7 linked regions of the Homo sapiens genome follow. The protein of the gene in region 6 purifies or fractionates together with the protein of the main gene of each other region. This does not show direct contact. Each region holds a gene or a part of one and is shown on either strand. Other genes may lie near its edges.

Region 1 (4,261 bases), on a different chromosome or scaffold from region 6:
CAAAGCAGCGAGGGCCTGGGCCCAGCCCACAAAACCATTTTTTCCTCTTAGGCCTCTGGGCCTGTGATGGTAGGGGCTGCCCTGAAGATCTGTGACATGCCCTGGAGACATTTTTCCCATTATCTTGGTGATGAACATTTGGCTCCTCGTTACTTATGCAAGTTTCTGCAGGCTGCTTGAAATTCTCCTCAGAAAATGGGTTTTTCTTTTTTTATAGCATCGTCAGGTTGCAAATTTTCCAAACTTTTATGTGCTACTTCCCATTTACATATAAGTTCCAATTTCAAACCATCCCTCTCAAGGTCAAAGTTCCACAGATCTCTGGGGCAGGGGCAGAATGTTGCCAGTGTCTTTGCTAAACCATAACAAGAGTGACCTTTGCTTCAGTTCTAAAAAGTTTATTATCTCTGTCTGAGACCAGTGCAGCCTAGACTTCATTATCCAAATCACTATCAGCATTTTGGTCAAAGCCATTCAACAAGTCTCTAGGAAGTTCCAAACTTTCCCACATTTTCCTGTTTTCTTCTGAGCCCTACAGACTGTTCCAACCTCTGCCTGTTACCCAGCTCCAAAGTTGCTTCCACATTTTTGGGTATCCTTATAGCAGCACCCCACTCTCTGCAGTACCAATTTACTGTATTAGTCCATTCTCATGCTGCTAATAGAGACATACCCAAGACTAGGTAATTTATAAAGCAAAGAGGTTTAATTGGCTCACAGTTTCACAGGGCTGGGGGTGCCTCTGAAAACTTACAGTCATGGTGGAAGGGGAAGCAAACATGCCCTTCTTCATATGGTGGTAGGAAAGAGAATGAGAGCAAAGAGGGGGATGAGCCCCTTATAAAACCATCTTGTAAAAACTCACTGTCACCAGAACAGCAGGAGGGTAACCGCCCCATGATTCAATTACCTTCCATCGGGTCCCTCCCATGTGGGGATTATGGGAACTACAATTCAAGATGAGATTTTGGTGGGGACACAACCAAACCATATATCCATAGTATTTTGTATTTCTTTAGGTACCTATGTTTTTCTCATCTAGCAATAATGATTTTGAAGGGTGATCAAGATTTTTTTAAAGTAGGTGCTTTCCATTTTGAGTTATCTTTTTAAAGCCTTGGGTATATAATTATATGTATCCCCTTTATTTTACTGTATTTTAATTTATTTATTATCATTATATTTTCAGACGGAGTCTTGCTCTGTTGCCCAGGCTGAAGTGCAGTGGTACAATCTCGGCTCACTGCAACCTCCGTCTCCCGGGTTCAAGCAATTCTTGTGCCTCAGCCTCCTGAGTAGCTGGGATTACAGGTGTGTGCCACCACGCCTGGGTAATTTTTGTATTTTTAGTAGAGACGGGGTTTCACCATGTTGGTCAGGCTGCTCTCGAACTCCTGACCTCAAGTGATCTGCCTGCGTGGGCCTCCCAAAGTGCTGGGATTACAGGTGTGAGCCACTGTGCCCGGCCCTTGTATTTTAAGTAAGAGTACAATTTTGTGAATTTTGACAAGTGTTGGAATTATGTAACCACCAAAATCATGTTGTAGAGTATCTCCATTATCCTAAAAAGTACCTCCGTGCTCCTTTATGGTCAGTTTTCTTTTCCCAACCACTAACCTGCTTTCTTTCACTATGGTTTTTGCTTTTTCTAGAATTTTGTTAATTTGTCATATAGTATGTAGTCTTTTGTGTGTGACTGTTTCACTATTTAATACTTTTGAAATTCATCCATATTGTTACCTGTATCTGTAGTTTTTTTCATTGTTCTTTTTTGTTGAGACAGGGTCTAGCTCTGTCAACTAGGCTGAAATGCAGTGGCGTGAACATGGCTCACTGCAGCCTCAACCTCCCAGGCTCAAGCGATCCTCCTACCTTAGCCTCTCAAGTAGCTGGGACTTACAGGCATGCACAATCACACCTGGCTAATTTTTAAAATTTTTCGTAGAAACGAGGGTCTCATTAGGTTGCCTAGGCTGGTCTCAAACCCCGGGGGTTAAGTGATCCTCCTGCCTTGGCCTCCCAAAGAGCTGGGATTGCAGGCGTGAGCCACTGTGCCCAGCCAGTAGTCTGTTCCTTTTATTTACAGAGTAGTATTCTATGTATGGATATATACTTTGTTTATCCATTCAGCAGTTCATAAACATTTGAGTTATTTCCAGTTTTAACTCTTTAAAAGTTTTGCTTTCCTAAAGGTTAGGATCTATAGACGATCATGCCCTAAGTGGTGTCTCCTGGTCATGTACCTTGGAGCTTCCTGTGCTTTATCAGGCAGCTCTCTTAGGCTGGACCCTGTTCTGGTCATTCTAGCCTGCTTACTTCAGATGTGCACTTTATGTTTATAATAAACAGAAATTTATTTAGCTCATGATTCTGGAGGTTAGGAGGGGCCTACATCTGGTGAGGGCCTTCTTGCCCTGTCATCTCATGGTGGAAGGCAGAAGGGCAAGAGAGCACTAGGGAGTGGAGGAGGGGAAGGAGAGGCCAAATTCATCCTTTTATCAAGAACCATTAATCCATTCATGAGGGCAGAGCCCTTGTGACCTAATCACCTCTTAAAGATCCCACCTCTAATCATAGTTGCTTTAGGGATTAAGTTTACAAAACATGAACTTTGGCGGACACATTCAAACCGTAGCAGAAGTTCACTCTGCTCTAAGGGCAGAACACTTAGTTTGAATCTATCATTTGTCTACCAACTCTTAGAGACACATGTCAAGATTTCCTAAAAATCCATTGTTCGTTACTTCAATAGCAGTTTGGAGTGGGTCTCTGAGTTTTTGCAGGTCAGCAAGCATCTAACTGGAGTAGTAGGCATTCTTTAAACTCTCAAGAGATTCTCTTGTGGCCTGCCTCACTGGGGATGAGAAGCATGGCCTTTCACCCCTTACCTCTTATGGGGATAGTAGTGCATTGCATTCCCAACTAGGATGAAAACTCTCTTGAAAGAAATCTCTCTCTTTCCTTAGTCTTTAACCTTTTCTGTAGATTGGCCGTGGGTAACAGCCTCAGTTGCAGAACCAGTTTGGGCTACCTCTTAGTAACTCCTAGAGGGGTGTCTGGTGCCTCTTTTTAGAATATGAAAGTGTGTTTCCATTGTTCCCAGATCTGGGCTTTGACACACAGTAATGATTCCATCTTTACATTTTACTGCATACAGTTCCTTAGAATAAGCATTCTCCTTCCTCTAATCGTGGAACCTGGGGCTAATCAAGGAAAATATCATGTTTCTAGATTTAGAGCACCTTCTATGTGGTAGGACTAAACTGAGAGTCATAAAATCTAGGTTCATTTTGGCTCATTAACTAAATAAATATATAAATAACTGTAGTTTCCAGGACCTCAGGTTCCTTAACTATAAAAAGGATTTAGATGAGCCCTTCGAGATGTAAGTGCCTATGATTTCATGATAATTGGATATATCATTAATTATAAAATAATTGTGCAGAAAGCAATAGCAGAATCCATAAAAAGTCAAATGATGGGCCAGGCGCGGTGGCTCATGCCTGTAATCCCAGCACTTTGGGAGACCGAAGCGGGTGGATCACGAGGTCAGGAGATGGAGACCATCCTGGCTAACATGGTGAAACCCCATCTCTACTAAAAATACAAAAAATTAGCCGGGCATGGTGGCGCGCGCCTGTAGTCCCAGCTACTCGGGAGGCTGAGGCAGGAGAATGGCATGAACCCGGGAGGCAGAGGTTGCAGTGAGCCGAGATCTTGCCACTGCACTCCAGCCTGGGGGACAGAGCCTGAGACTCTCAAAAAAAAAAAAAAAAAAAAAGTCACTTGTTGGCCTTCTAGGAATTAGTTTTTTTTTTTTTTTTTTTTTTTGAGGTGGAGTCTTGCTCTGTTACCCAGGATGGAGTGCAGTGGCGCGGTCTTGGCTCACTGCAACCTCCACCTCCTGGGTTCAAGCGATTCTTCTGCCTCAGCCTCCTGAGTAGCTGTGACTACAGGCACGCGCCACCATGCCTGGCTAATTTTTGTATTTTTAGTAGAGACGGGGTTTCACCATGTTGGCCAGGATGGTCTCCCATCTCCTGACCTCGTGATCCGCCTGGCTCGGCCTCCCAAAGTGCTGGGATTACAGACGTGAGCTACTGTGCCCGGCCTGGGAATTAGTATTTTTAACATATATGGCAAACTACTAATATTAGTGAAATGTAACTTAGGAAGGAATTGAACATCATAGTGGGAAAATTATCACAGGACATGAACAGAAAATTAACAAAAGAAAAATGAAAACTGCCAGTTAACAATG
Region 2 (4,261 bases), on a different chromosome or scaffold from region 6:
GGCTGAAGGAATGTGAGGATTTAATGAGCATCTCTTATTTGACCCTGGTATGACACAGCACACCGCTAAGAATTGAGTCTTTTCATGTTATTGCGGGTTGCTAGTTCTGTCTGCTCTCCCTCCCCCTTTTCCTTTTTTTTCTTTACCTGTTTGCTTACTTTTCAGTCTTTACCAATAACATTAAATTTTTTTTTCAAGAATGTAGAAGTCAACTCAGATTGTGAGAAACATAAAGAGAAATTTACTGTAGGAGTGAATTAACCTATAGGAGTTGGCTTCTACAGGTTGGGGGATTGGAGAAATATTCTTATGAAAGGTTAACTATAAAACCAATCAGTCATTCACATTTACCTAGGAGTACAAATTATTGTTTCAGTCAAATATTTCTTTATGGAAAGAAGGAAGGAATTCACCTACTATAGCTCATCAAACAGTCCATGTCAATTAAAAAAGGCAAGGCAGTCCAGGTCACATAAAATTGTCACCAAATAAAGGCCTATATTTGAAAAAGGACTCCAAGCCATGTAGAATGGCCTACATTTTCTTTCTTTTTTTCTTTTTTCTTTTTTTTTGAGAAGGCATCTCGCTCTGTCATCCAGGCTGTAGTGCAGTGGTGCGATCTTGGCTCACTGCAACCTGTACCTCCTGGGTTCAGGCAATTCTCCTGCCTCAGCCTCCCGACTGGCTGGGACTACAGGCACACACCACCACACGTGGCTAATTTTTGTAATTTTAGCGGAGATGGGGTTTCACCATATTGCCCAGGCTGGTCTCAAACTCCTGACCTCATGATCCGCCCACCTTGGCCTCCCAAAGTGCTGAGATTACAGGCATGAGCCACTGCGCCTGGCCAGAATGGCCTACATTTTCAAGCAGTAGTCAGATGAAAAAAATCTCAGCATAACAGTAGAGTTTACAACCAAATCCTCAAAGTTAATTTAAAAATAATATTTCATGTTTCTTGTCTATATCGAAGGCTGAATTAAGTCACATGCTATAGTGTTGGTAACATTACAGGATATTTACCTTCTCTTGGCAACTCTCCTGGAATATAAAACTGAGGCTCACGTCACTTATCCTATGTGTTATTTGAGACATCTAAAAATAAACGAGAAGATAAAAAACAGAGGTGATCTCATTTCCTCTTCTAGCTTTTTCATAAGCCAGAGGAGCCAAGGGCCTAGGTGTCTAGAGTAGGGGTACAGTGGGGTCAAACTGCACTAAAAGCAGCATTTCTCAGTGTCTTATTGAGTAATTGAACTTTCTGGGCTACTTTCAGTGGTCTGGCAGCCTTGTAAATGCTCTCTGTTGGCTCATGTTAGAAAAATTTTCCTCAAGTTATTTTTAGGAGATAATTGAATTACAGAACAACAAAAAAATCTATATTCTCTGTGTCTTGTGGAGAAGTAGGAGGCAGGGGTGAGCATTCAGAGCAGAAAGACAGACCTGCTTTGTGGGCAGGTAAAGCTGAGATTGCTCCATTCCTAAGCGTTAAATACAGAGGTGCTGGCCTTGGAGATATCTTGATGATTCAGGCCTATGGGTTTACTATTTATTCAATGCAATTTGTTCGACATTCAATATCTAGCTGTTCTTAACTGGTGTAAACCTAGGAGAAAATCCCAAGAGAAAAATCTTGTCTCTGTAGACTAAACTATATGAGCAATTTAGAGGATAGGTTCTGCTGGATCGGTTCTTCACAACAGCAAAAAGGGAAAGATTTGCCCTGCTTCACCATCCTGAACTTCTGTCAATGCCAAATCCCCATTTAATAGCTTAAATTTCTTCCTTAAACCATTAGAAAACTTGTATTAAACTTTTTTTCCTGGCCTTCTCATTGCCTCTAGTGTGAGGGTCTCAAAAAGAGTATTTGTTGATGCTAAGTTGCTTTGTTTTATTGATGGGCTGTAGTAAGTTTTACAAGTGTTTATACTTCTGCAGATATTCAAAACACATCTGTTTCAAAAAAAGAAAGAAAATATGTCACAACCTCAAAGTGGTAGAAATTCTGGCCAAACACAGAGTGGATTTAAGAGGGGGTAGGGAGAGATGATGGCAGTGATGGGGGGTAAGCAGGATGAGTGAGGTTGGCAATAGGTTTGGATAGAAATTACTTTTGTGTTGCCTGCTTAATAAAAGCCACATAGCCTAATTGTATTTTTGACATGCCACTATATTTGAAGTCCATATTGCTATAATAATGTTGTATTGTTCCACACAGCCAGACTATCAGTGGTATGCTCTTGACCAGCTTCCGCCAGATGTACAACACAAGGCAAATGGTGAGACCACAGCTGTATTGAGCATTCTTTCATGTTTACATCTTAATGGGATCTTTTGGGGATGTTTACTCAACATACATTCATTCGTACTTGGGGAGGACTTACTATAAAGTTGTGTTACATACATAACTTTAATTTGATGCACCTGGGGTTAAATTGAACTCCTTAAGACAAAGAAAATGTGCGAATGCAGAAATGCATGAACCTCAATTCTGGCTTCTGTTCCTTTTTCAGTCTCAGAGTCAGAATTCCATCTGGGGTTAGAAATGAAAACTGTAAGCAGAGCTGTATTATAACAACAACAAAGCTCTGCAATTGTACTACAAAGCACAGATGCACACCCACTATTCCAGGTTGAGTTTGCTAGACAGATGTTTTAAATGTCACTGGCAGACAGACAGAGGAAACCAAAGGCTCGGAACTGTGTTCCCTTATGACTAAATGTCAGACTCCAAGGCAGGGCTCTTAGTTTAGGCCAGGGTTGCCCACAACGCCCACCTCAAAGTATGCTGGGGAAAACTAAAAGTCACTTATGAAGTACTCACAACTAAGAGTACTTTTTTAAATCTTATTTTTTATTGATTTAACATTTTCTGTTTTCTTTCTAGAATCTGCTATACTTTCTACTGCTTGTTTCTATGGTCTTGTGAGGCCACCCAGAAGCGGGCTGTATAAACTGAGCTATAATCAAAATCCCACTTCTATTCTCATCAAGTATACATAATCAAAAGTTAGAAATGTCTGCTACATGTTTAAAGTCTCATATGACACACACCTGGGACTCTAACTTGTTAATTTCCAAAGATTTGAATCTATCTAAAAATGCTGAAGATGAGCTATGTAGTCTAATTTCAGGCCATTCTTGAAATTTGATCTCGTTTGAAGTCAGAGCTGAGATCACAGAAATCTAGTTTTTAATACAAGGAGTCTGTTATGGAGTGTAAATAGGGAGTCAGGGACACCACATGTAGTTTTGCAGGTTGTGAACTTTACAAGTCTGAGGGGCTCATCATGGTACTCTATGTGAATGGAGCCTGCTGAAGTACAATACGCAATCTGGACAGCTGTACACAGCAGCAATGGGAGTGACAAAGGCCATAGATTACAACAGCATCATAGAAAAGAAATATGAAATGTGAGAATTCCATAATAAAATATCCAGGTATTTATCAAAACACTATAGGACTCTCTTTTTTCTTTGCTTTCTACTACAAATATAGCCAGTGGTTTTAATGAAGTTCTTGAGTTCCAACAATAATGGAGTTGTTTTATTAGAAAGGCATACCATTAACCGGAATGTGTGTTGCATAATATATGCAATTTTAAAATCTATTATGGTATAATAACAGAATTGCTACCCAATTATAATTTTCCATTTTATATTGCTCTGGAATGACTATTAAAGATATTTTCTTTCTGAATTGGAGTTTAATAACTGGAAAATAAAATTACTTAGTACAGAATTTAGTAATACCATAAGGTCATTTATATATCATTATTAGATTCTTGCTGGACCAATATTACACAAGCTAATGATTACATAAAATAGAAATGAATTGTGATGACATTCAGAAACTAAATAGAATATGCAATAATGAAATGTTGTAGTCAGTGTATGAGACTTACTGATTTTTGTCTAGCTAGGAAAAATGTAGTGAGCTTTGTGATGTATAAACATACCATGTAACAGTGTCTACAGATGTAAAACTACAACAAAAAAATCTCCATGATGTACCAACCTAAGCTTTTTTTTTTTTTTTTTTTTTCGGAGACAGTCTTACTCTGTCACCCAGGCTGGAGTAGTGCACTGGTGTGATCATAGCTCACTGTACCCTTAAACTCCTGGGCTCAAGAAATCATCCCACCTCAGCCTCATGAATAGGGCTACAGGCATGAACCACCATGCCCAGCTAATTTTTATTTTTATTTTTTGTTCAGATGGTGTCTTGCTCCACCTCCAGTCTGTTGCCAGGCTGGTC
Region 3 (3,255 bases), on a different chromosome or scaffold from region 6:
CTGAAGACCTTATTAAGACCCACAAGGCAGTCTTTTAAAAACAATTCCATTACTAAATCAATTTGTCCTAGATCAAAACTACGTTTTGACCAAATTCTATTTTACAAGAAATAATGTAACATTCATTTTAAAATGTCATACTACTCTTTCTCTAAATGCACAATCCTGATACCTTCTAGCTCTAACTGCATCATAAAACACATATCAGAACCTGTATAAATGTACATATTCATGATTGTTTTTCCCTTCAAAGTAGTTACAGCTGATCCTTGAACAATGCAGGGATTAGGGGTGTGGACCCCCAAGCAGTTGAAAATCCATGTATAATTTTTGACTCCCCGAAAACTTAACTACCAATAGTCTACTGTTGACTGAGAAGTCTTACCAATAACATGAATAGTCGATTAACACATAAACAGCCCAGTATCTGTATATATATTTTTATACATTCATGATGTATCTTTTTCTTAATTTTTTTGATATTTCTAGGCTACATGGTTTGTCTATGTTTTTTCAAATTGTTGCAAATCTCCAAAATTTTTCTAGCATATTTCCTAAAAAACAGCATATGAGTGGACCCACATAATTCAAACCCATGTTGTTCAAGGGTCAACTGTACTTATTAGGTTAATTGCTTATTTCAGTGAAACCATCACTACTTAAAACATTTAATGAACTCAGTCACAAATATACTCATAAATTAAAGAGGCCAATTTTCATATGTGGCTCACTAGCTTTAGAAGACATTAAAATGAACATTTTAAGAAATGGTAAGCCAGGGGCGGTGGCTCACACCTGTAATCCCAGCACTTTGGGAGGCAGAGGCGGGCGGATCACCTGAGGTCAGGAGTTTGAGACCAGCCTGACCAACATGGAGAAACCCTGTCTCTACTAAAGATACAAAAAACTTAGCCAGGCGTGGTGGCGGGCGCCTATAATCCCAGCTACTAGGGAGGCTGAGGCAGGAGGATTGCTTGAGCCTGGGAGGCAGAGGTTGCGGTGAGCTGGGATCACGCTATAGCACTCCAGCTGGACGGGCAACAAAGATGAAACGTCTCAAAAAAAAAAAAAAAGAAAGAAAGAAATGGTAGCATCACTGGAATAAATTCATAGCTTTCACTATTTTGAGGGATGACTTTAACTAAATGAGAACGTTTACTTAATATCACGGTGCAAATGCCAAGAGAAATAGGTATAAAATTCTGAAAATTAATACAATTTAAGAAAAAGTCAGCTGGGCATGGTGGTTCATGCCTGTAATCCCAGCACTTTGGGAGGCCAAGGTGGGTGGATCACGAGGTCAAGAGATCGAGACCATCCTGGCCAACATGGTGAAACCCCGTCTCTACTAAAAATACAAAAATTAGCTGGGCGTGGTGGTGCACGCCTGCAGTCCCAGCTAGTCAGGAGGCTGAGGCAGCAGAATTGCTTGAACCCGGGAGGCGGAAGCTGCAGTGAGCCGAGATCGCACCACCACTGCACTCCAGCCTGGCGACAGAGTGAGACTCCGTCTCAAAAAAAAAAAAAAAAAAAAAAAAAAAGAAAAAGTCAGTGTTAGTTCTATTTATAAAGTGGGCAATTCTGAACCCTGAATTATTTATTCTAATATATCCATTAATAGTGTCATTCAGAGACCAAATACTATATAATCATTATATTTTAAAAGTGAAATTCTTACCTCCCAACCAGGCCACACAATTAGCTTTTGCAGGTGGAGTATGAATTCGAAATGTCTTAGTGCCAAGTGCTTTTTTATATTTTGGTTTTTCTACCAAATACCTTATTTCTGCAAGCAATCTGTGGAGAAATCCTGGCAACATAGAAGTGCCACCTATGACTACCAAATTCTCTGCTAGTTGCTTCCTGGTGTCTATCGGACACTGTTATTAAAAAGAAAAAAAGAAGGATTTATTCTGAACTGTACAAATAATGCTTGATTGAACTTAAGAAAATATACATAAATATACTATTATTATACATATTATTATTATACTACAGATTAAACAGGTGATCGTTTGTATCGCAAAAAGGGCCACAGCAAGGTTTCTTTCATGTAGCAAATATAACCACCATAAACATACTGCCAAATATATACATAAACTTTAAAGATTTTAAAATAGTTTAAAGTCTAAAAGCATAGAATTTTACATTCCATAGGGCATATGTGAGTGTTCTCACTGTCAGGGTAGCAATGATTAAGTAGGGCAAAGAGCATGAGAAGAAATAACTTCTCTTTTTTGGGATAAGTGAAATATGTAGAAATTTAATTTTTCTAAGGTGTATTCACAGTGCCAGTTGTTAAGTGGGAAGATAACACTCCTAGAAAAATTATGGTTCTACATCAGTTCTCTTTAAGAGTTAGCGATGATAAGGTCCTTCAATGAATGGAGCCCTAGAGGTAAACATATCTTCCAAGGCAATGGTATTTCATGCGAAGTCCTATAATTACATAGTCATTAAACGAAAGAGACATATTATTACCATATGTCCTGTGGAATTTAAAATTGAATACTATACAACCCTGAATTGGAAGGAACCACAAGCCACACTAGGTACAAAATAAAAATCTGGTCCCTGGTCTTAAAAGAATGCACATGTCACTGGGTTTGGTGGCTCACGCCTGTACAGCCCTTTGGGAGGCCGAGACAGGTGGATTACCTGAGGTCGGGAGTTCAAGACCAGCCTGACCAACATGGAGAAACCCCATCTCTACCAAAAATACAAAATTAGCCAGGCATGGTGGCACATGCCTGTAATCCCAGCTACTCGGGAAGCTGAGGCAGGATACTCACTTGAACCCGGGGGCGGAGGTTGTGCTGAGCTGAGATCATGCCATTGCACTCCAGCCTGGGCAACAAGAGCAACACTGTCAAAAAAAGAGAAAAAAAAGGCCAGGTGCGGTGGCTCACGCTTGTAATCCCAGCACTTTGGGAGGCCGAGGCGGGCGGATCACAAGGTCAGGAGTTCAAGACCAGCCTGGCCAACATGGCGAAACCCTGTCTCTAAATAATACAAAAATTAGCTGGGCAAGGTGGTGGGTGCCTGTAATCCCAGTTCCTCAGGAGGCTGAGGCAGGAGAATCACTTGAACCCGGGAGGCAGAGGCTGCAGTGAGCTGAGATCGCGCCACTGCACTCCAGCCTGGGTGACAGAGCGAGACTTTGTCTCAAAAAAAAAAAAAAGCACATGTCCATGGCACTCATTATCCTGGGGTTTGGAATGTTGTAGATGCCATTTCTCAGTGCCAGAGTAAAAC
Region 4 (4,261 bases), on a different chromosome or scaffold from region 6:
CACGTCTGTATGTGGTCACACATGACTTAGTGGTTAGGTGGCATTTTACACCAAGGTGCTCACACTTCCTTCCATGGGCCTGCTGGGGGTTGCTGGAGCCTGATGGGGTAGTAGGCACTGGGCAAGGTAGTATATAAATAAATGTAAAGGCCAAGAGTTTGTGGCCTATTCATTTTTATAATTCCATATAACCCTGACAGTTTCTTTGTGAGTGGGTAGTATTATCCTCGTTCTGTCATCAGTAAAACTGAGGTTTAGTACAGCAGTGATGTCCTAAAAGTCATAAAATGGCAGAGGCAGGATTTAAATCTGGTTTGCTTAGAAGCCAAAGCCCCATCCCTTCCTTTGTACCCTGTAGTTTACAGTGCCAGAGTCTAGGCCACCTATAGCATGCCAGGCAAGGAGCACCTTCTCTGTGTGACAAGCACCGAGAGCAGCCCTCAATTCCAGGCCTGTTGGCATAGTAAGTGATACAGGTTGGACATTAAGAGCACTGGGCTGGAGGTTGAATGCCTCTGCCTCTGCCACTCCCTTGTTATGTGACCTATCTATGTTTTGATTAACTTCTCAAAGCTTAAGTTTTCTTATCTGCAAAATGAGGACAACAAGAACACTAACTCTATGGCTGTGGTAAGAATAAATGTAATAGTTAAGCACAATGCCTGGCTCATAGGAAATCCTCAGTAAACCTTAGCTATTATAATTGTTATCTCCCAAGGCTATCCAGTGAACAAACATAGCACCTAGAGTTTGACGGAGCCTTGAGCTGATGCTGACACTAGCTGAGAGAAGATCCATGGCAGCTCTAGTCGAGGCCCTGCCCACCAGTGCTAAAACAACTTATATGTAATTTGTCAATGACATCCAATGACCTTCCTTCTTCCCCGATTCTTCGTACCATCATCTGGACCACTCTAAGGGGTACTAGCTGCCCCACCTTCCTCCTTTTAGAGGAGGCTGGCTGAGCCTCTGCAACCCCAAGAAGATGGTGTCACATATAGCAGCTAGGACATGAGCTTTGCAGTGGCAGACCTGGGTTCACATCCCAGCTCCACCACTTTCTCACAAGTGAGCTGGGGCCAGGTGATTAACCTTCCAAGCCTTAGGTTTCCTTTTCAGCAAAATAGAAACGATGATAGTACCTATAATATCTGGAGTTAAGGTGAGGATGAAATGAGACAACACATCTGAAGGGCATAGGCACAGAGTAAGTGCTCAATGGCAAATGACCCATCATCTTTAAGGGAGGGAAATCTCAACCATGTGATGCTGAGTTCCCTGTTTGTACCGTAGGTACATCGAGAAGTCTGCAGAGGAGCTGGACGAGGAAGTAGAGTATGACATGGACGAGGAGGACTACATCTGGCTGGATATCATGAATGAGCGTCGGAAGACAGAGGGTGTAAGTCCCATCCCGCAGGAGATCTTTGAGTACCTAATGGACCGACTGGAGAAGGAGTCGTACTTTGAGAGTCATAATAAAGGCGACCCTAATGCGCTAGTGGACGAGGATGCTGTTTGCTGTATCTGCAATGATGGTGAGTGCCAGAACAGCAATGTCATCCTCTTCTGTGACATGTGCAACCTGGCCGTGCACCAGGAGTGCTACGGTGTCCCCTATATCCCTGAGGGCCAGTGGCTGTGCCGCCGTTGCCTGCAGTCACCCTCTCGTGCTGTGGATTGTGCCCTGTGCCCCAACAAGGGCGGTGCCTTCAAGCAGACAGATGACGGGCGCTGGGCCCATGTGGTGTGTGCCTTGTGGATCCCTGAGGTCTGCTTCGCCAACACGGTCTTCCTAGAGCCTATTGACAGCATTGAGCACATCCCACCAGCTCGCTGGAAGCTCACCTGCTACATTTGCAAACAACGGGGCTCAGGGGCCTGCATCCAGTGCCACAAGGCCAACTGTTACACAGCTTTCCATGTGACATGCGCCCAGCAGGCTGGCCTTTACATGAAGATGGAGCCTGTGCGGGAGACAGGCGCCAACGGCACCTCTTTCAGTGTCCGCAAGACAGCCTACTGCGACATCCACACGCCTCCAGGTTCAGCACGCCGACTGCCTGCCCTGTCCCACAGCGAGGGTGAGGAGGATGAAGATGAGGAGGAGGATGAGGGTAAGGGCTGGAGCTCAGAGAAAGTCAAGAAGGCCAAGGCCAAGTCCCGGATCAAAATGAAGAAGGCACGGAAGATCCTGGCAGAGAAGCGGGCAGCAGCACCTGTGGTGTCAGTGCCCTGCATCCCACCACACAGGTATGTGGGGAGCCGGTGGACAGGCAGATGAGGGAGAAAGGAGCCTCCAGGAGAGGAGCTGGCAGCCTCCTGAGTGGAATGGCAGGGCTGGGCTATCTTCCCAGGAGCTGCATAGAAGTTAAAAAGAACATATTTTCAAAACAGATAGTTGTCTTTAGCAGGTCACCTGACTTTCACATTAAGAGCCAGAAATGTCAGCTTTTATCTGGCATAGCTAACAGGCGTTTTGGAACTGCCCTTCATTTTGATGGTGTGGTTTGTTAAGTTGGGATGGAAGAGGATGGAACTGCCACTGGCAGCAATGGAAAAAATGGTCTGAATATGAAGAAACAAATAGAATGAAAAGCGGGGAAGGGGAAGCTCAAGAAGTTGTGAAGTGGTTACTGCTGCTCATTTGGGCTGTGATGGCCAGGGATTTTTTTAGTTCTCTTGTGCCGTTTATTTGATTTACTATATATTTCTGCTGTACAGTTGTACTTCATTTTAAAACCTTCAAAGGCTCAGTCTCAGTGGGGCTCCCAGGGTCAAATAGTACTCTGGGCTGCAGTGACTAGAGCAGTCTTAGGGGCAGAAGTCCCTGATTGCTGGTGTACAGGGTTAGGGATCTGGTTTAGTGCTGGGAGCTTGGTTTCCTGTCTGCCACGGTACCACTGATGGCACCACTCTTTCTTCCTTGCCTTAAGTCCAGAGTCCCAGGCCTTTTGGACAAGAGATCCTCTCCCTTCATCCCCATTCAGGAACTTTCACTGGCCAGAGACCCTTGCTCTGCTTAAGAGAATCAGGGCCCAACAAGTTTTACTCTTTGTTTCCTGCCTCCCAGGCTTAGTAAAATCACCAACCGCCTGACCATCCAAAGGAAGAGCCAGTTCATGCAGAGGCTGCACAGCTACTGGACACTGAAGCGGCAGTCACGGAATGGGGTCCCATTGCTACGTCGCCTGCAGACACACCTGCAATCTCAGAGGAACTGTGACCAAGTTGGGGTACTGTGTCCAGTTCCCTGTGGGCTCTGGGAACTAGCGCCAGGGGGACGAAAACCAAAATTTGCAACTGTAGTTTCCAGTGTCAGAGGGCTTAGACTCTTTCCTCCTTTAAGCTAGCCCTCAAACCAGGATCAGCATGGAATGTTCAATGAAAAGATGTTGTTCCTATGTGTTTATGTATTCATTCAACAAACACATACCAAGCATTTATTCTGCCAGGCCTTGGGGACACACAGATTGAGGCACTACCAATAAATTACTGTGCTCCCTCTTTTGGCTTGACCTGAGTTTCCTGGGCTCTCTTCTCCCTGTTGACCTTTCCTCTGGCTTTCTAATCATCCTCTGATCTTCGTTTTGCCTCTACAGAGAGATTCTGAGGATAAGAACTGGGCCCTTAAAGAACAGCTCAAGTCCTGGCAGCGGCTCCGGCATGACTTGGAGCGAGCTCGGCTGCTCGTGGAATTGATCCGCAAGCGGGAAAAACTCAAAAGGGAGACGGTGAGTGCTCCTGGGCCAGCCCTATTTTATAAAAGAAAAAACAAAAAATTAGCCAGGCATGGTGGCAGGCGCCTGTAGTCCCAGCTACTCGGGAGGCTGAGGCAGGAGAATGGCGTGAACCTGGGAGGAGGGGTTTGCAGTGAGCCAAGATCGTGCCACTGTACTCCAGCCTGGGCGACAGAGCGAGACTCCGTCTCAAAAAAAAAAAAAAAAAAAAGACCCAGGAGAAGGAATAGCGTGTGTACCCCAGCCAGATAGCAGCAGGGCTGACGCTGGAGTCAGGTCTCCTGGTGCTCGGTGTGCTTTTAGTTCTGCTGGAAGCAGAATGTCACAGGAGCGTATGAACAGAATCCTCAGTTATGTGACATAGGTAGCTGGTGCTGGTAGTTCAAGAAAGGGGGAAGCCAGAATTGTTGGTGCAAGTTTCCCTGGGTGGAGCCTCATAGAAGGTAGACCTGTATGAGTACACCCAGCTGTGAGGGTGGGAAAGAAGGCGGGTTCCCAGGCCAGCTGGGACCATATCCTCA
Region 5 (4,261 bases), on a different chromosome or scaffold from region 6:
ACTTACTGGTCGTCCTAGTATATCAATCTGCCTTTCCAAATCCTCTAATAGGGTCACCACCTCCTCTCCGTTCTCTAGCTGATGTTCCTTAACCAGTGTCTGGAGCTCCTCAGGTAGGATGGTCAAGAACTGCTCCAGCACCAGCAGCTCCAGGATCTGTTCCTTGGTGTTCAAATCTGGCCTCAGCCACTGATGGCAAAGGGCCCGTAGTTGGATCAGAGCTTCTCGGGGTCCTAGTGTCTCCTGGTAGCGTAACTGCCTGAAGCGCAGGCGGAACACTTCTTGGCCAAGAGGGTTACTTTCATGCAGACTAGATTCCTGGTCCCAACCATGATCCTCCTCTACCTTGACGATTACAAGATCCTCTTCAGGAGTCTGGTCTGGTGGGGATGGGGCTGAAGGCTTTCTTGATTCTTCAGCCATTAGAGCCTGAAAAGCTCAGGAAGTTCGTTTCCACTACCTTCTTTATCTTCTTAAGAGAAGACTCTTCTGAGGGCCTCTTTCTAAGGGTACTTCTTCATGAAGAAAATATGATAGTGTTAAGGCAAGTCAAAAGTCATTGTAACTAACTATGGTATCTTAACAAGTTCCTTAGTATGACACGGACTTCATGGCTCGGCCAATTAAATGATCCTCCCCACTGTTCCAGAAATAACTTCTTACTTCCTTAACTTTCTGTCATGCCAGCCATGCCAAACCCATCCATAGAAAAACCCCTTCCTTCTGCTTTCATCACCCTGTTTGGGGATGTGGAACATGGCTAAGCAAAGTCAGGAAACCATGTAGACTGGGTCTAGTTGAAATTTTGTGTTTAATCTCAGCTGGCCTTCAGGGCTGCTCATTTAACCCCTTTTAGTCTTTGATACACCAGCTGTACTAATCTGGTTCTACACGCTTCAGCTCTCAACCTTTCCCTTACTCTTAACAGATGAGACTAATTTCTACATAATCTAATTCAAGGTATTGTCAAAAACTTTCCTAACACTTTGCTCTTCTCCACCTAACATTCCTTATCCTACCTGTGCCCCTCATCTTTCCTCCTATCTCAAGGTTAACTTCCTCTACTATGGACGTGACCTCCAACTCAGAAACTCTCTATGGAGCACTCCAAGGAACCTGGATGCCCTATTGACAACTACAACCCAAAAGTCTACTCCCACACTCAAAAGGCTACATACTATATGATTTTATTTATGTGAGATTCTGGAGTGGGAATGTTTAAATGTTTATCCATTTCCCAGTTGAACAATATCTGAGTTGTTTTTGTTTTTTAATCACTATGAATAAAGCCACTATGAACATCTGCATGAGTTTTGGTGTGAATATAGTTTTCATTTTATTTGGGCAAATATTCAGAGGTAAAATTGCTGTGTCATAAAATACATATATGTATAACTTTATAAGAAACTGCAAAACTGTTTTCCAATCTGACTAGCACTTGATATTGTTTTTGTTTTTAATTTTAGATATTCTAATAGGTGTATGTGTAGTGGCAACTCATTATGGTTTTAATATCTCATATGGCTTTAGTATGCATTTCTCTACTGACTAATAATGTTGAGCATCTTTTTATGTGCTTATTTAACATCTATATATCTTCTTTAGTGAAGTATTTGTTCAAAACTTCTGCCCATTTTTAAATTTAGTTATTTTAAAATTAAGTTTTGAGTTTCTTACATCCTCTGGACACAAGTCCTTTATGAGATATGTAATTTGCAAGTATTCCCTCTTTTTCATCCTTTTCATAGGGCCTTTTGAAGAAAAAAAGTTCATTTTTTTAATTGACTGTGCTTTTGATGTCATATCTAAGAAATCTTTGCTTAATCCAAGGTTACAAATATTTTCTCCTGTTTTTTACTAAAAGTTTTATAGTTTTAGGTTTTACATTTAGGCCTATGATCCATTTTGAGTTAATTTTTATATAGAATTTGAGGTATGGATGGAGGTTCATTTTAAGGATTCTCCTTTATCTACTTAACTGTCTTTGTATATTTGTCAAATATCAGTTCACTATATGTATGTATATGTAAGGGTCTATTTCTGGAATCTCTGTTCTGTTTATTGACCTATACATCTATTCTTTCACCAATACAGAATAGTCTTGATTGTGTAACTTTTAAAATCTTGAAATCAAGTAGGTGGGTCTTGCAACTTTGTTGTTCGTTTTCAAAATTATTTTCACTTTCCTAGTTCTGTTGTCTTTTGATACACATTTTAGAATCAGTGTATTAATTTCTACAAAAAATTATTGAATTGGATTTGTATTGAATCCATAGCTCATTTTAGGGACAACTGATATCTCAACAACAGTGAGTTTTCCATTCCGTGAACACAATGTGTCTCTCCGTTGAAGTCTTCTTTGACTTCTTTCATCAGTACCGACACTACTTTCTTAAAGGACAAGATAAAATACTGTTGCCTTTAAAAATCCTTTCCTGGTGACTCCAATTGGAAATTATTTTCCTCTCATTCTATACCTCTGTTACTTAAATGTGTATTGCTTTAATGTTACTTTTCCCATAACTGTATATTTATTAGTTCCAAAGGAATTCTGACTTCAAAACTTAATTGTATTTTCCCCATGGGCAAAGGTCCATATCTTTTATCTTATTGATAGAATCGAAGAACATTAGCCATATTTACAATTGCAAACACAGAACATGTTTATATTTCTTGTAAGAGTGAGATTTAGAAACAAGACCTGATGTCCGAAAAAAGTTCAATTTCATGATCCTATTTCTTTGTGAAATATATGTCTATGGTTTCCATCCTTGGTATAGACATCATCTCTTGCCTAGAACTGCAATGGTAACTTTGGTTATGCTTTTTTCCCATTCATGTTCCACAATATTGCCTACTGTGTGTTGAAATGTGTCCCTCAAAAAGATATGCGGACATTCTAACCTCTAGTACCTGTGGATGTGACCTTATTTGGAAATGGGGCTTTGCAGATGTAATCAAGTTAAGATGAAGTTATACTGGAATGGGTAGGCCATTAAACCAATATGACTGGCACACTTTTAAAAGGAAAAAAGACACAGAGACAGACTCTGAGAAAGGAGAAGGTCATGTGAAGACACACACACACAGATGAATGAGAGCTAAGTGACTACAGAAGCAGAGATGGAGTTGTGCAGCTGCAAGCCAAGGAATGCCAAAGTTTGTCAGTAAAAACAAGAAGCTAGAAGAGCATGGGTCTGGCGACACTCTGATTTTGGACATCTAGCCTTCCTAATTATGAGACAGTAAGTGTCTATTCTATTAAACTACCAGGTTTATGATACTTTTTTTTTTTACAGTAGCCCTGTACTGCCAGAGATTTTTTAAAAATATGTAATATGACTAACATGACTCACCTCCTGAAAATATTTCAATAGGGACCAAATTTTTTAGCATGGTATGCAAGGCCCTTTATGAATGTAAACCTGGCTGGCTATATCTACTTTAAACTCACTTACATAAAGCCTTTCTGGGCTGTGGCTTTCTCATACTTCCATTCTACTACAGAGTTCTTTACTCTAGCTCAGTGGTTCAAAACTGATGGCAATATTGTCCTTACCCCCATCCCAGGGACCTTTCATAATGTCTGTAAATATTTTTGTTGTCACAACTTGGGGGTAAGGGGTGCTACTATTATCTTGTACATAGAGGCCAGGGATCCTACAATGCTCAACACAGCCCCCACCACAAAGAATTATTTGGCCCAAAGTGTCAATGCCAAGGTTGATAAATCTTGGTCCAGCTAAAACCATTCAACTCTTTTTTTTTTTGTTTGAGATGGAGTCTTGCTCTGTCGCCCAGGCTGGAGTGCAGTGGCGCGAACTCGGCTCACTGCAACCTCCGCCTCCCGGGTTCACGCCATTCTCCTGCCTCGGCCTCCCGAGTAGCTGGGACTACAGGCGCCCTCCACCACACCCGGCTAATTTTTTGTATTTTTAGTAGAGATGGGGTTTCACTGTGTTAGCCAGGATGGTCTCGATCTCCTGACCTCGTGATCTGCCCGCCTCGGCCTCCCAAAGTGCTGGGATTACAGGCGTAAGCCACTGTGCCCGGCCTAAAATCATTCAACTCTTAACTCTAATTTATCTATTACCTTTTTCATGAGTTCTTCTCTGTCATCCCCCTGCCATTTGTCATTCCTACCAAAGCATTTTTAACATGGTCCAAATATAGGACTTATCACATTGTGAGAATGTGGCCATGGCCTTATTGCAAATGTTTGTTGACAGAGGTGACCATTATCTTTGTATTTCAAAGATAC
Region 6 (4,261 bases):
CCATCCCAAACCCTTTCTGGTACTGTAGGGACTTCCTTGCCATAGCTGAATCACTAAGCCTAATTCAAAATGCCACAGATAATAATAATAAAACGATTTCTGACCAGGGATTAAGTAGTCACCAGGTTCTCTTATCCTTCCCCCTTTCCTAACTTTATAAGATAGAAGAAAAGGATGAAAACTGAAAGAAACATATTTATAGTTCTCTAATAGTAAGGAATAAAGCAAAAGGTGGCAAGAATTTGGGAATAAAATTGCCCAGAGGAAGACAGGGAGGAATTTATGAGAATCTGAGTTGGAACTTTGTTAACTGTTGAAAGCAGGGATGGAGAATCTTTAGACCTTAAGGGAAGGAGCTGTAGATCTATTAAAAAACAGTTACAGGCCGAGCGCGGTGGCTCACGCTTGTAATCCCAGCACTTTGGGAGGCCGAGGCGGGCGGATCACCTGAGGTCGGGAGTTCAAGATTAGCCTGACCAACATGGAGAAACCCCTTCTCTACTAAAAATACAATATTAGCCAGGTGTGGTGGTGCATGCCTGTAATCCCAGCTACTCGGGAGGATGAGGCAAGAGAATCGCTAGAACCCGGGAGGCGGAGATTGTGGTGAGCCAAGATCAGGCAATTGCACTCTGGCCTGGGCAACAAGAGCAAAACTCCGTCTCAAAAACAAAAAAACAAAACAAGACATACACACAAAAAAGGTACAAGCAGCCAGGCGCAGTGGTTCATGCCTGTAATCCTAGCATTTTGGGAGGCTGAGGTAGGAGGGCTGCTTGAGGCCAAGAGTTCAAGACCAGTCTGGCCAACATAGCAAGACCCTCTCTCTATATATATTTAAAAAAAAAAAAAAAAAAAAAAGGTACAAGCATATGCATCTCAGAAGTAGAACTTCAACTGTAAATGTAGATACCAATGTCCTACGTAAGGAAATTTTTCCTTCACACACTCTGTCTAGGCTTGTACCCTCAAATTAGAGGAAAAGATACCAGCACTTTATAGAGCCTCACTTGGAAGTTGTATTTCATTGGAATCCTCCTACTTACCCATAGAGAACATTAAGGGACTGGTGACATTGATTGTGTACTCAGTCATCAATGCTGAGATGAATCATAAACCAACTATGTTCTCAACAGTGTTAAAAAGTGGGTAGGAGGGGCCGGGCCGGTGGCTCACACCTGTAATCCCAGCACTACGGGAGGCCGAGGCAGGCAGATCACCTGAAGTTGGGAGTTCGAGACCAGCCTGACCAACACAGAGAAACCCCCTCTACTAAAAAAAAAAAAAAAAAAAAAAAAAAAAAAAAAAAAAAAAACAAAATTAGCCAGGCATGGTGGCACATGCCTGTAATCCTGGCTACTCGGGAGGCTGAGGCAGGAGAATCACTTGAACCCAGGAGGTGGAAGTTGCGGTGAGCCAAGATCGTGCCATTGCACTCCAGCCTGGGAAACAAGAGCGAAGCTCCGTCTCAAAAGAAAAAAAAAAGTGGGTAGAGGGCTGGGCACAGTGGCTCACGCCTGTAATCCCAGCACTTTGGGAGGCCGAGGAGGGTAGATAACTTGAGGTCAGGAGTTTGAGACCAGCCTGGCCCACATAGTGAAACCCTGTCTCTACTAAAAATACAAAAAAATTAGCCAGGTGTGGTGGTGCATGCCTGTAATCCTAGCTACCCGGGAGGCTGAGTCAGGAGAATCACTTGAACTCAGGAGGCGGAGGTTAAGTGAGCCAAGATCGTGCCACTCCACTTCAGCCTGGGTGACTCAGTCTCAAAAAAAAAAGAAGAGTGGGTAGGAGAGGTCACAGGATTTAATTACACTGGATTAGAGCAGGCAAGGTGCTCAGGAAACATGGGGCAACAGTTTACAAGAGAAGAGCCTCAGGCAGGAGAAATCACTAATATAACCTAAGAGGCCTCCAGTCTCTCAATCTTTTCAATCACTTTGCCTTCAAAGTCTGATTATGGGCAGAGATAGGTTCCAAGACTTACATGTCAAAGGTAGAAGGAAGAGAAATGACTGCTCTCAGTGTCTGAGTATATAGCAAGCAGAAAAGGAATAAATACAATAGCTAAAGATTATCAGCTAAGGATGTAGATTAAGTCAAATTCTGCCTTCATTTATTCTACAGAAAACCCCTTATCAATATCAGATTTTTGTAAATAATTCAAATCATAAGCGTTAACAAGCCATCCTAAGGAATAATTGAAAGGTTTTTGTTGTTCTGCTCACCACGAACAATACCTTTATAATGAATAGTAAATGAATGACTTACATCAGATGTGGAAGGGTTATCTGATATGACATACCTGGAAAAATGGAACCCCGCCAATTGATGAACAATCCACACCAGCATCTACAGATGGCTCTTGACTTAGAGGTTCTTCAGTATACTGCCCCAGAACTGCCTCTTCTACATCCACATCCTAAAAGAAGAAACTGGATGAGTGACTAAGTCCAAGGGCTTAAAAGTCATCACAAGAGTAACAGCAGCTTTGAGTATAACACAATGCCCATGGTATAATATAAAAGTTAAACCTCAACAAAATTATTAGAAAGTCTACAAATTAATGAAAATAATTCCTAATATATTTTTATAGAGAGTAGAGGTTCCTATATAACAATGTTACTAAGCACAATATTAAGTATTGGCTATTATTATCTACTAGCATAATTTAAAAACTAGTAAGATTAAAAGAAACAAGCCTAAGGGCTAGGCCTATCATTAATGAGAGGCGGGGTAAGATTGAGGGGTAAACAGTAAAATTCTTCACATGAAGTCAGCCACATCAAGAGTTCATAAAAGAGTTCTATTATAAAATATGATCCTTTAAATTTACCGGAATTGTCTCTTCTTTGTTGTTTTCTGAACAGTTTAGCATCATTAACAGCTCAGGCTGTTTCCTTTTCAGCTGATCAAGGAGATGTTCACGTGGTTCAGTTCTTACCAGTGTTGATGGGTATAAATAACTTTTCCTCTGTGGTGTCGTACCTTTAACGGACATTAGATAAGAGGTAAAAATTAAAGTATGAGATGTAAATATTTTTAAAAAAACCTAAAACTTCCTAATTAATCTTGTCTTCTAAAAATATAAAAATATAATTGCCATATATGAGGATCAGTCTTGCTACCTGTCAGACATTGTTTGCAACTAACAATACTTTCTAATTTGATGACAGACTTTACTGTTTTCAAGATTCATCCTACTCTCTAAAACATGAAGTTTACCATCTCTGAGGATATATAAAAGATGTGTTATAAGCTCTAAAAGGAGTTATAGTGTTCTGAAAAAAATGGCAGCATTATTGGAATGAGTAGATTTCCCAACATGATTACTTTGATAGGAGTAATCATTTCACTATAAATGTGGTGTGGTGGTTAAATATTAACTAGTTATATACATATACTATGTTGCCCAGGCTGGTCTTGAACCCCTGGGCTCAAACGATCCTCCTGCCTTGCCTCCCGAAGTGCTGGGATTATAGGTGTGAGCCACCGCATCAGGCCCCCAGTTATATTTCTCTGTAATAAGCTCATGCTCTCATGATTTACAAAAGTACTTGCCTTTTCACTCAACATTTACATTCCTAACTTCATTGAAAAGTAGACAGTAAATCCTACAGGTCTCTTGGGGAATAAATAAACCAACATTCTATGTAGCACCATCCCCTTTTAACAATTGCTTTTTAAATTAAAAAAAAAAAAGAGTTTTGTGATATAATTTACATACCATAAAACACTCATTTTATGTGTACAATTCAGTGGATTTTAGTGAGTTTACAGGGTGTGCAACCATTACCATAATCCAATGAAGAACCCAATTATTCATGCTGTGTAAAACAGCTTGTTACATCTCTTCCATGAAGACCTCCCTGAATCATTACAGCCTATAATGATCTTTGCCATATGTGATCTCTCAAAATGTTGATTCCTAAATGCTAATGGTCCATGGTGATCCCTGATCTCTTAAAACAGGGATTCCTAAATGGCAATAGTCTATGACAAAATGAGAGGGACACAGAACAAAATGCACAATGTGGTAAACTTTGCATTAAACTAGATTTAGTCAGTTACATCTCTCCCATATTTGTGGTATTAAAATGTCCTTTTACAAACAGTGCTAGGTTTGTATTTGTTTTAAAAAATCCCCTATTAACAAAGTCAACTCCCTGAAAGTATGTGAAATTATACTGAATTGTGATACCACCTGTATCATGACACTTGATTAAAACTATTTTAAGGTTCCAGTTTTCCCATTTTGAGT
Region 7 (4,261 bases), on a different chromosome or scaffold from region 6:
GAAATTTTACATATCATAACTACTGCATGACTTGGCCTGGCACAGTGGCTTACTCCTATAATCCCAGCACTTCGGGAGGCCAAGGCAGGTGGATCACTTGAGGTCAAGAGTTCGAGACCAGCGTGGCCTACATGGTGAAACTCCATCTCTATCAAAAATACAAAAATTAGCCGGGCATGATGGCAGGCACCTGTAATCCCAGCTACCCAGGAAGCTGAGGCAGGAGAATCGCTTGAATCCGGGAGGTGGAGGTTGCAGTCAGCCGGATCGTACCACTGCACTCCAACCTGGGTGACAAAGCAAACTATCGGTGGGGGCGGGGAGAAGTTTTATCCCATTTCAGCACCAATGTATAGAAAATCCTGGCAACAGAAACTTATTACTTCCACTCGCATTAAAACTAGTCAAATAACAGCATCATACTGGGTGTGGGAAATGGACCGGTACAAGTCCAGTCCCAGTTCCATAACTTACTCGCCATAAGACAAAACATTTATCCAAATAGTTCTGGTCCCCAGTCTCCTTCAGTATAAAAGAAAGCACTCATGACCTGCTCTGCCCAACCGCAGGGCTGATGTGATCAGTTCTTAATATCATATTTACAATGTGCTTGCCACAAACATAGGGAATTAATATTTCACTATGCTTAAAAGATGAAAATACAAAATTGCTTTTATATTTAAATACTGTATATTAATAGTAACATTTTACAATTGAAACTCTAAAATACAAATATTCTGGACTATGTTACAGGTGAAAAATCAGAACAGGGAACCTTAGTACTGTAATATCCACAAGTCCAAGATTAGTTCAAAGTGATGACTCAATTGTCTTTCGAATGTGCTGACTGATAGCAAAGAGGCAACATAATTTACAGACTTTACCAAAGATAAAAGTATCTACATTGATTTTTTGAAAACACAGTTCAAATGGAGTATCAGCAGCTCACTAGACTTAAACTTTCAAGAAAAACAAGAGGTGACAAAGCTGGAGTCTGAGAATAAACAATCTCCAATGTTTGCTACAAATCAATTCCTCCTAAGGAAGAGGGAAAGTTATCAGCCTCCTGAGCCTAGAATTTAACTCCCAACCGACAGCACCAGCAGATCCAAGCAACACCTCCAAGGCTAAGCAGCAGAAATTAAATGAAACACCTATCTATGAATCAGAAGATTTAATTTAAAACTAGAGACTAAGGAAGGTTATTAGCACCCATTGATCATTTTCTATATACCTGGCACCTGTGTCAGAATAACCCCAGGAGACAAGGTACTACCCCCACCTTCCAGCGTCCTGATGAGCCAACTGGGGAGCAAAGGTAATGAAATTTCACTCAAGGTCACATGGCTAATAGGAAAATCTCAGACATGAACCCAATTTTGCCTGTTAAGTCTGTGCACTCTCTATGACATTACTGCACCAAATGTCCTGGATACCCATTACATTTTTCCAATTCTATAATAAAGTATGTCCCCAGGGTTTCATAATGGATGTCATGGTGGGCAAAATCTAGCTAAATGGTGAAATACCTCTATTTATTATTTGAAATTCAATAAAAACAGGAGGAAGGAGAGAAGAAAAGCAGTCCCTAGCACTGAAGGATGGAGGGCTAATCATTCAAGATCAAAACAACTCACACCATATAAGGAGAAAATAGTTTTCATTTGATTATATATCTACAAGGTTATACATTTTTAAATGTTCAGCCTAATAAGCTGTAACCAGAACTTTCCAACAAAATAGTCTTATCTGCAATATAAAATGGTTTAGGTTTTCTCATAGAAACAGAAATGTAGGATTTTTCTTACCTCCCTTTTCATTAACTGACCCTACTCTTTTAAATTCAAATTAAGAGTAAGTAAATCCCTTTGCAGAGGTGCCATCAAAAACACTATAAAGCAACATCAGAAGGCTGGGCATGGTGGCTTACGCCTGTAATCCCAGCACTTTGGAAGGACAAGGTGGACAGATCGCCTGAGGCCAGGAGATTGCCACCAGCCTGGCCAACATGGGGAAATTCTGTCTCTACCAAAAATACAAAAATTATCCAGGCGCGGTGGCGCATACCTGTAGTGCCAGGTACTCAGAAGGCTATGGCATGAGAATCACTTAAACCTGGGAGGCGGAGGTTGCAGTGAGCCGAGATCACACCACTGTCCTCCAGCCTGTGACACAGCAAGACTCTGTCTCAAAAAAAATCTGAAAGCAAAACAATTTTTTAACCCTTAAACAGAAAATACTTCTTCACAGCATTAAATCAAGTTCAATAACCAGCAAGTCTAGAGAACTATTGAAAAGTTTTACATAAATGCAAAACTACTCTGAAACACAAATCTTATTAGATGTAATGAGAAAAAAGAATCCTAGACTGCAAAGTTATCTGAATTCCTAAGTTGTACATACATTTTTCTCTAAACAGAAAACAGCCCAAGTCCCTAGTCAAAAGAAATTGTCAACTTGCGATTGTCTGCACGAATAGGGAATGTCATAAATCATGAGTGGAATCAATTACGTACATGTATTTGCACATGGGTATGCCAGATGTTCTCAAACTGACTCTTCATAATAAAACAGTAACTCAGAAGCATCAGGAAACTTGGCACCTTCCAGCTCTGATGCTCTGCTCCCAAAGCCATGGCCGTTCAGTCGGACACAAGACTGAGGGTAAACTACCTTCCCTCTGCTTGCTGAGTATGAAACAATGGATGAGGGGGTGAGGGCAAGAGGAGAGGGCAAGGAGCAAGGCACAGAAAAGCAATAAGGAAATTAATACCTGTGGTTTAAAAGACCTTCCAGTAGCTGTGACTATCTGACAAAAGAATTTCAAATTCCCATGCCATCAGAGCTCTAGATGATTTATTCCAGACCACATCTGGGAGAAATAATTATAAAAGTAAAAATGTACCCAGCATCCGAACATTTAGACCCTATCCTTAAGGAGCTTACAAGATGTAGCAAAAATATACTGGAAAAGGTAACTAAAGATTCTCATTGAGAGAAATTAAGAGACGCCAAAGAGTACAGTGCTAAGTATTTTCCTTCTTAATCCTTTTGGTGAGAAGGAAAAGGGTAAGCATGATTAATGACAAGGATGCTTTATATAACCAAGAATGTCAATACAACCTACGTGACCAAACTTTGGTCAAGTCAGCAGGTGGAATTTTTAATGCAAAGCCCAACGTTAACAACCTGGGAGAATATTTCGAACAACACAAACACTTACTAACATCTCCAAAACTGCACTTTTCACAATGATTGGGGTTTCTCTGACTCCTCCAAGAAAAGAGGTCAAATTCTTTTTTTTCTCTTCTACCTCAGTGTTTGGCCCATAGAAAGTGCTCAAAAATGGCTGAGGCTGAGGAAAACCAAACACAGGCCGGGCACAGTGGCTCACGTCTGTAGTCCCAGCACTTTGGGAGGCCAAGGCCGGTGGATCACCTGAGGTCAGGAGTTCGAGACCAGCCTGATCAACATGGTGAAACCCTGTCTCTACTAAAAATAAAAAATGAAGACGGGCGTGGTGGTGCATGCCTGTAATCCCAGCTACTCAGAAAGCTGAGGCAGGAGAATCGCTTGAACCCAGGAGGCGGACACTGCAGTGAGCCAAGATCACGCCACTGCACTCCAGCCTGGGCAACAAGAGCAAAACTCTGTCTCAAAAAAAAAGATAAAAGAAAAAAAAATCAAACATAATATTCTAACAGCAAGGATTTTTACTCATGCTTTTTATTTATCATTTTACATGAAATATAAGCCTAACTATACACTACGTATAAATGACTTGGTTCTGTATGTGGGGCCTAGATTGGGGATCTAATACAACACGTGAATTTTTCTTGGTAGCTAGGTCTTGGCATGGCTCAGCCCTTTTAAATCCATTTCTCATTCTCCAATATCCTTCTACCCTATCCTGACCCACCAGCAAGGAGGACTTCTGCAATCCTCACTTCAATTAAAGCCTGTTGGCTTAGGGTCACAGTAATAAGCAAATATGGTTCAATTCTGTAATTTGATTAACAACGAAATGATTAACAGTATAGCAGTTTACAGTATAATAAAAAATAAGATTTTAACAGTGCAAGGTGACTTAATCAGAATTCTGGGAAATATGACTCAACCACCTTGACACAGAGGTCAGGGGAAGGGGGTAGGTCTATGTTTCAATGTCATCTCAGAAACTGCTCATATCTATGCTGGCTTCTATTTTCATTCCGTAAAGCTAGCCAAGGGAGCTATGTTTTACGAGGACATGCAGTTTCAA

Evidence for each region.
Region 1: the proteins of KIF11 (region 6) and C2orf69 purify together in Homo sapiens (affinity purification with mass spectrometry; one large-scale study listed by BioGRID and IntAct). This does not show direct contact.
Region 2: the proteins of KIF11 (region 6) and TNIP3 purify together in Homo sapiens (co-immunoprecipitation; one large-scale study listed by IntAct). This does not show direct contact.
Region 3: the proteins of KIF11 (region 6) and ACTR10 purify together in Homo sapiens (affinity purification with mass spectrometry; one large-scale study listed by BioGRID and IntAct). This does not show direct contact.
Region 4: the proteins of KIF11 (region 6) and BRPF1 purify together in Homo sapiens (affinity purification with mass spectrometry; one large-scale study listed by BioGRID and IntAct). This does not show direct contact.
Region 5: the proteins of KIF11 (region 6) and ZKSCAN8 purify together in Homo sapiens (affinity purification with mass spectrometry; one large-scale study listed by BioGRID and IntAct). This does not show direct contact.
Region 7: the proteins of KIF11 (region 6) and MTUS1 purify together in Homo sapiens (affinity purification with mass spectrometry; one large-scale study listed by BioGRID and IntAct). This does not show direct contact.

What each region holds. Positions count from the first base shown.
Region 1 is NC_000002.12:199,917,194-199,921,454, forward strand, and holds part of C2orf69 (mitochondrial protein C2orf69 precursor), read left to right. Parts: intron 1-4,261. UniProt on the Homo sapiens protein: May play a role in the respiratory chain.
Region 2 is NC_000004.12:121,136,645-121,140,905, reverse strand, and holds part of TNIP3 (TNFAIP3-interacting protein 3), read left to right. Parts: intron 1-2,221; coding exon 2,222-2,282; intron 2,283-4,220; coding exon of another isoform or gene 4,221-4,261. UniProt on the Homo sapiens protein: Binds to zinc finger protein TNFAIP3 and inhibits NF-kappa-B activation induced by tumor necrosis factor, Toll-like receptor 4 (TLR4), interleukin-1 and 12-O-tetradecanoylphorbol-13-acetate.
Region 3 is NC_000014.9:58,230,691-58,233,945, reverse strand, and holds part of ACTR10 (actin-related protein 10), read right to left. Parts: intron 1,881-3,255; coding exon 1,679-1,880; intron 1-1,678. UniProt on the Homo sapiens protein: Part of the dynactin complex that activates the molecular motor dynein for ultra-processive transport along microtubules.
Region 4 is NC_000003.12:9,737,706-9,741,966, forward strand, and holds part of BRPF1 (peregrin), read left to right. Parts: intron 1-1,293; coding exon 1,294-2,253; intron 2,254-3,073; coding exon 3,074-3,236; intron 3,237-3,602; coding exon 3,603-3,734; intron 3,735-4,261. UniProt on the Homo sapiens protein: Scaffold subunit of various histone acetyltransferase (HAT) complexes, such as the MOZ/MORF and HBO1 complexes, which have a histone H3 acetyltransferase activity.
Region 5 is NC_000006.12:28,144,570-28,148,830, reverse strand, and holds part of ZKSCAN8 (zinc finger protein with KRAB and SCAN domains 8), read right to left. Parts: intron 516-4,261; 5' UTR 424-515; coding exon 7-423; exon of another isoform or gene 1-6. UniProt on the Homo sapiens protein: May be involved in transcriptional regulation.
Region 6 is NC_000010.11:92,648,562-92,652,822, reverse strand, and holds part of KIF11 (kinesin-like protein KIF11), read right to left. Parts: intron 2,989-4,261; coding exon 2,837-2,988; intron 2,423-2,836; coding exon 2,306-2,422; intron 1-2,305. UniProt on the Homo sapiens protein: Motor protein required for establishing a bipolar spindle and thus contributing to chromosome congression during mitosis. Required in non-mitotic cells for transport of secretory proteins from the Golgi complex to the cell surface.
Region 7 is NC_000008.11:17,790,672-17,794,932, forward strand, and holds part of MTUS1 (microtubule-associated tumor suppressor 1), read right to left. Parts: intron 1-4,261. UniProt on the Homo sapiens protein: Cooperates with AGTR2 to inhibit ERK2 activation and cell proliferation. May be required for AGTR2 cell surface expression. Together with PTPN6, induces UBE2V2 expression upon angiotensin-II stimulation.